2 separate regions of the Homo sapiens genome follow, and region 2 is reported to be linked to region 1. The links are microRNA targets in miRTarBase. Many come from high-throughput screens and were not tested one by one. Region 1 holds a microRNA gene; the other region holds the end of a gene's coding sequence.
What was found. The annotated mature microRNA hsa-miR-133a-5p reads AGCUGGUAAAAUGGAACCAAAU and lies in region 1 at 2,200-2,221, shown strand. An mRNA with a match to its seed (bases 2 to 7 or 8) in the 3' UTR can be bound and repressed. Matches are read on the target gene's strand: a 7mer-m8 pairs with bases 2 to 8, a 7mer-A1 pairs with bases 2 to 7 and ends in A, and an 8mer does both.

Region 2: the mRNA of SPRING1 is a reported target of hsa-miR-133a-5p. The part of its 3' UTR that is shown has no 7-base or 8-base seed match.

What each region holds. Positions count from the first base shown.
Region 1 is chr20:62,562,734-62,566,015 of GRCh38, forward strand. MIR133A2 (microRNA 133a-2) reads left to right here and starts at 2,179; the gene lies at 2,179-2,280. MIR1-1HG (MIR1-1 host gene) reads left to right here. Exons shown (of 4, transcript NR_171007.1): 3 at 2,256-2,367.
Region 2 is chr12:116,715,116-116,718,375 of GRCh38, reverse strand. It overlaps SPRING1 (SREBF pathway regulator in golgi 1), which reads left to right. Exons shown (of 5, transcript NM_024738.4): 5 at 483-3,260. The coding sequence ends at 566. Among named protein-coding and RNA genes, the nearest start is that of SPRING1, 21 kb to the left of the region's middle. RefSeq lists enhancers at 125-654, 655-1,184.

The sequences.
Region 1 (3,282 bases):
TCACACCCTTGGCAAAGAATGACTGGGAACCTCCCTAAGCCAGGCCACATTGGGGTGAGGGTACCTGGAGGCTGGCTGCCACCTCATGGGGCAGCATGAAGAGAGAAGGGCCTGGGCCCCGGGGCAGGGGACGCTGCTGTGAGCCCCAGTGTCCTCCTGAGGGGCAGCACAGGACTGGCCTTGAGGTACAGTGGGGTGTATGGGAGAAGACGGTGGCTGTCGGTGCTCAGGGCCGCACCTGGCACTTGGCCGCTCGGTGTCTATTCACAGCTCACGCCCACCACCGTGGCGGCTGCAACGCCAAGCTTGATGCCTCATCCAAGGCCGCAGTGGCCTCCCCGTGGGGGTTTTGCAGCCTGCCCCAGTGCTCTGCTGCCTTTCGGGTGAAATGACCAGTTTGTTTGCTATGTTGATTGGCAAATGCCAGACCTCCCAGCTCCTGATGGGATAGAATCGCGGCTGGGACTCGAATCCCCGGCTTGATCTTGTCAAATCTTCTGCTCCATTAGGAATATTGACAGGCGATAAATGGACAAGTGTGTGCCGGCTTCGAGGTCTTTGAGCCGTCCTCACTCCAGGGCCAGGGAGGGGTGGACTCTGGGAGCCTTGAGGTCTGCCCTGCACCCTCTGTGCTACTGGAGTAAGGAGGAGAGAGGTTTGCAGAGTGTGGGCTGATGGCCCGGAAGCCTCTCTGTTTTGGGGCGCGAGGCTGAGAAGGCTGGGGCCCAGCCCCGACTTATAGGGGACTTTGAGGAGGTGGTCCTCCTACACGGCACAGATCTTTCTGGAGGGCACCGTGGCAGGGACAGTCAGGGAAGGCAGCTACGGACGGGTCAGAGCAGGCCTGGCAGAGGCTGGGGTGGGGGGTCGTCCAGCTCAGTCACTCCCAGAGGGGACTTGGAGCGTGGGCATGGTGCTGTGCGACCGTCCCTTTTGCCTGAGGGGCCTGAGCTTCTGTCCCTGCAATGTCAGGAGGGGGACAGAAAGGCCAGAGGACAGGCAGGCAGGGCAGCCCCAGGTGTGCAACGGGCAGGCAGGTGGCACAGGCCCTAGTGCGCAGCGCCCACTCTGCCAACCTGGTGGGCGAGGAGCAGGTGCGTTCACCTGTGCTGCCCAGGACGGCCTGTGCTCCCGGATAGAAGCTCACACACATGGGTGCCACATCCCCAGCACTGCCGGAGACACTCTCCCTCACCTGTCACGGCTCCTGATGAACGGGGGCTGCAGGGAGACTCATTTTATAAAAGGGAACTTGCTCTCAAGGCACTGAAGGTGACATTGGTGTGGGGGACGCGGGAGCCAGGCAAGAGTGATGTCACGTTCGGACCTCCGTCCTGACACTCCATCCTCACAGTTCCCTTGGGCATGGAAATGCCCCTCAGCAAGATGCGGGCAGGGCTGCAGGTCTGGGGCATGGGGCCCAGGGTCAGGCCACGAAGGCCCCCTCAGGCTGTCCTCCCACCACCATGCAATGTGGACGTCCCTGGAATCTTCCCGTCCTGCCTACCCAGAGATACCATGTGGTGTCAGAGTCCATCCCGTCCCACCCAGGCCATGGCAAGCCAGGCAGGACGGGGTCCTGGGTGGGCTGCCCCATGGTTAGCCAGGGCCCAAGGCTCACTGGGAGGTCTGTCCTGCCTCTGCTCCAGCTATGAGCATGGTCTGGGAGGAGTTTGCAGGGGAATAAGGGCCTCAAACCTGCAAGATCACTGTGCCCACAGATGTGAGCCCCCTGGGGCGGGGCCCGATGGTCTGAGCTGTATCCCACAGCTGAGGCTAGTGCTGGGGGCAGTGGGCACTTGGTGAAGCGAGGGCTGTGGAGGAATCGGGCGGTGACAGGCAGAGAGCAGTGAGTGTCAGTTCCAGAGCATGGAGGCCGCCTGGCACCCCCGACCCTCCCCAGACCCCTGCGGGTCCCCGATGGGGGAGCCCGGGCAGAGCGAGAGGGTGGTGAGTTGCGTGTGAGCGGGTGTGTGTGTCTGTGTATGTCTGAGTGTGTGTGTGTGTTGGGGCGTGTGGCCCTTCACACCAGTCCCTGCAGAGCTTGAGGGAAACTCCACGGGGTGGGGGCCCTCCGGGAGTTGGGGTAAGGGCCTGATGCTGGCCGCGAAGCCCCATCTCCATCGGGACTGCTTGGTGGAGCCGCCTTCTTCACCGACGTCGCTGTTCCTCGGATCTGGGAGCCAAATGCTTTGCTAGAGCTGGTAAAATGGAACCAAATCGACTGTCCAATGGATTTGGTCCCCTTCAACCAGCTGTAGCTGTGCATTGATGGCGCCGTGCGGCCCGGCCGCAGGTCCCGCAGCCGTGGAGAGGACCCAGCAGGTGGCGCGGGGAGAGCCCGGCTCGGCACGTGGTCAGCTCCAAGTAAGTGAAGCCCTGAGTGCCGCCCCCGCCCCCGGAACACTTCAGTGCAGAGCCCGAGACCCTTCCCCCTGAAAGTGGGTGGCTGAGGAACGGGGTCATCCCCACAGCTGGGTGCTCCTGCTTGTTCCTCCTTGCCAGGGCACCATGAAACCAATGTTCATTGCTCACACAAGAGCTTTGCTTGAAAATGTGGGCTTAGGAGCTGGGCCCTGTGGGTTGGGCCTGCCGGGGGCCTGGGCTGGCCCCGCCCTGTCCTCTTCCCAAGGACCCTTCTTCGATTTCTCCTTTAAAATGGCCTGGACTCTAAGGCACCTCCAGGGACCCACAGGGGTGAGCACGGATGCTGCGCTGGTGACCTGTGGGGGTCTGTGTCCTCAGTGGGGAGGCCTGGGCCGGTGGCATCTCTCCAGATGGCCTGAGGGGTGCTGGGCCTGGCAGGGAGACTACCAAACAGGAGCCCCTCAGCATGGCCCGTGGCTGGGGAGGTGCCTGTGAAGGTTGCTGGGGCCCCCAGGGGCTCCCCATCTCCCCACCCTCTTGCGGGAGGCAGTGACGCCCATGTGCAGGGAAGCTGGGCCATCAACGGGCACAGCTGCAGTGAGCAGAGATCTGCAAGGGGGTCTGCAGGCCAGGTGGCACCCAGGACCCATTGTGGGGGTCCCCGACCATGTGCCCTTCCCTTGGCAGGGGCTGGCATGAAGGGGCTCAGGCTGCTGGGCGCCAGCAGATTGGAGGCCTGGGCAGGCACGGGGGCTCCTGCTGGGCATCTCTAGGCCTGGGGTTCCAGGGCCTGTCAGGAGTGACCCCTGACTTCTGCCCAGAGTTGCAGACGTGGGGCCTCCCCTCAGGGGCCACCAGCTGCCGGCCCCAGGGCAGGTGAGGCGAGGGTCAGGACCCTGGGAGGGATGAGCAGAG
Region 2 (3,260 bases), not on the chromosome of region 1:
GCATGGTATTGTAGGATTTGGCTCATGCCCCAAATTTTTAGGTACATAAACTTTATGAAAGCAATTTAAAGTGCATCTCCTTAGTGTCTCTGCAGGGTTCCTTACGGGAACTGAGTGAAGCTCAGGATCAGGTGCAAAACACCCATTGGATCTTAGACTGTTTCAAGTAATTTGAGGAAAAGTAGTTGTCTTGAGTCACCAGGTCACAGCAAAGTTATTTAAAAACTCACTGGTGTACATAAAAAGAAACAGTCCCACAGCGATGTTATGTCTGTGTTCATGCTCTTCATTGGCATTCTGGGTTGAGCATTCTTCTTTGTTCCAGAAAGTGCCCTGGAGCCTTTAGTGACATTTGGAGATGGACTCGGCCAGCCCCCTGCAGGGAGAGTCTGACAGTCCCGATCCACTCTCACTCTTCCGAGAGGGAGGTGTGTGAAGCTGTGCTCGCTCTCACTGCGCTCTTATTTTCCTTTTGCCAACAGAGCGTGCAGCATGAGAACACCTACCGGGACCCCATAGCAAAGTATTGCTATGGAGAAAGCCCGCCCGAGCTCTTCCCCGCTTGACGGGTGCAGCGGACTTGCTCCAGCCTGGGTGAGGAGGCCCCGCTGAAGAACTCGCCTCCTGGGACCCAGCTTCAGCCATCGGGCCAGGCTGCAGGAAGAAGACAAAGGCAGCGTGAGGAAACCTTGGCTTTGACCCCTTCTCGTGTTGTCATCTTTGGCTTCGCTCACCACCCGGGCTTACCAGATGGAACTCTTCTGTAAAGCAGCTTGGCCCCTCCAGCCAGTCCCATTCGGGAAAGATGAAACCGGAGGCCGGGCTCACGGTGGTGGTGGAGTTCTTGGATGACTCAGCCCTGGGACCTGCACAGGGACCTGTGACTTGTGTTCATCGGGGGCCGGTGTCACTTCCAGTTTTGATCCAGGCTCTTTCACTGTAAAATTATTTATTGGATTCCTTTGGAGTAATGGGAACATTCTAATGTTTTATGTAGGAAAATGCCTTGCCATTCTAGTTGAATATGTTCAAGGAAATTATTTTTGTTGTTGTTCTGTGTTCTCGAGTTTCAGGAGTTAAATCATTCTTCCACCCAGATACAACATTTTCTCTTTTAGGACGTGAATATTCTCTCTAGGCAGTTATTTTTGTTTGTATTTCGACAGTATCAAGCATAGGCCCTGAACGTGACCTGTTAGCCATATCCTGACGTGTAAAATTATCTAAAAACTCAGACACTCTTCCATTCTAATCTAACTGCACGATTTCTAACAGTGGGCACCATGTGCCTGCCCTCAGGTTATTTTCCAGTGGTAGTCGAATGTGCTCATATACCCTATGGAGAGCACTGTTTTAGCAGAAATCTAATTTCTCTTCCTGGAGGAATTTGTTCTCATTTCTTTTGCCACTTAAAATTAACTGTGGGCTACTCAGCCAGGGTACAGTGGGAGCCTCAGGAAGGTCAGAGGCAACCTCCTCCCCTGTTCTATCAATAGAAACCCAACGTTGAGGCAATTCCTAAACAGACGCACCTCGTAGCTTGCTGTATGTGTTTATTCTTTATTGCTTTCAGCTTTGGGGCTGTAACAGGTACAAATATTTGGTTTCCCTATGATTTATAGAGAAGAAGAAGAAACCCAGCTTTCTATCAGAGCACTGCAAGAGAAGAGTCTTACACCTGCCCTCAGTGGGAGATGAGAATGGTCATTATGACTTAGAGAATGCTACACGTGTAGGTTGCTGGTGTGTCCTGAATCCACAGGCATAAAGCACTCCCCATTTTTCCTACTGTAATGCAGATTCTCCGGCTCAAGGTCTAGAATATTTGATCCTAAGATCAAGACATCATGCCCTTCGAATAGTACTGCTCTTTGTTTTCAGGAGTCACGTGAACACACAACTCTCCTATATTCCTCACGAACCTCAGGATTGAGCAAGGTCTTTGTAATTTTTTTGGTTCACTTTATTGACCTGGGAGCAAGGTGCTAATTCTGTGGTCAGTATTCAATGTTTTTTTCAGTGGAGCTTTTTCTTTGGGCCATATTTGCCTTCTAATACATTCCTGCAATATGTAGTGGTGATTTCCCTTAGCTTCCTCCTACTACCTCTTATACTCATCTCCCCAAATTATTTGCCTCCCTTAAATAAGTTTTCCTAGAAGGTAAGCTGGTCAGGCAATTTGAAAAATATTAGATCCCAAGAAATCTATTCCGTTTGCATTGGACTTCTCGGATTCCATGTGTTTGCAGCAGGACTACATCGAACTCTGATGTGCCGGATTGTGGCATGTCTGCATGTCTCATCCATCTATTGTTTTTGGTAACTCAGTTTGGAATTTCAGTGTCTGTCTTCCCTGGGTTGACATTGGAATCAGCCTCTCCTTTGAGCTTATTTTAACTCTTGAGCAACATAACATAGATTTAATGTGAACAGTTTATACCAAAGGGCAGCCTGTGCCTGTTTATGGATCCTCTCTGCCTTTGTACTTGAAGAGCGCATTTTACATTTCCAGTCCTTTCACAGACAGGAGCTCCAACCTTACGATGGAGAATTAAACTTGCTTGTATTTCCACTTTGTGGATGAGGAACTATGAGAGGTGGAGTGACTTCCTGGGTCCCCGCTGAGACTTAGTGACAGATCCCAGACAAGAACTTCATCTCTGACTCCAGGTCTAGTCCTCTTCCCCCTGTCTCTTGCCAACTCCAGCCCTGACACCGTGGGCGTCTCCCCTGAGAGCAGATATATTTCAATTGTCCAGGCCAAAAGAGGGGCGAGGCGGCATAAACACCCAAATTAGGTGGAGGATCCAAAAGTCATTTTCATTTGGCTGTGGAATATGTTTTTTGTATTTCAATCAGCTAGGGGTGTGTTCACTGTTTTTGGAAATTCACAGCGCTTGAGCCTCCATAATGAAGCTGGGCTGCAGAGCACCTGGCACGTGCTCCAGGCTCCCAGCTCCCAACCTAGGACCTCTCCCTGCCCTCCACTCTGGTTGGTTTGTGGTTCCCTCGACCGAGGGTTTCTAGAATCAGGGACCTTGTCTAAGTTTTGTTTGCCCAGAGCCCAGCGAAGTGTGTGATACACCTTGGGAGTTTAGGAGATCACAAAAGGGATGAAAACACCTTTAGAAAACATTTCATTGGTGGGGCGTGGTGGCTTATGCCTGTAATCCCAGCACTTTGGAAGGCTGAGGCAGGTGGATCACCTGAAGGCAGGAGTTCAGACCAGCCTGACCAATATGGTGAAACCCCATCTATAC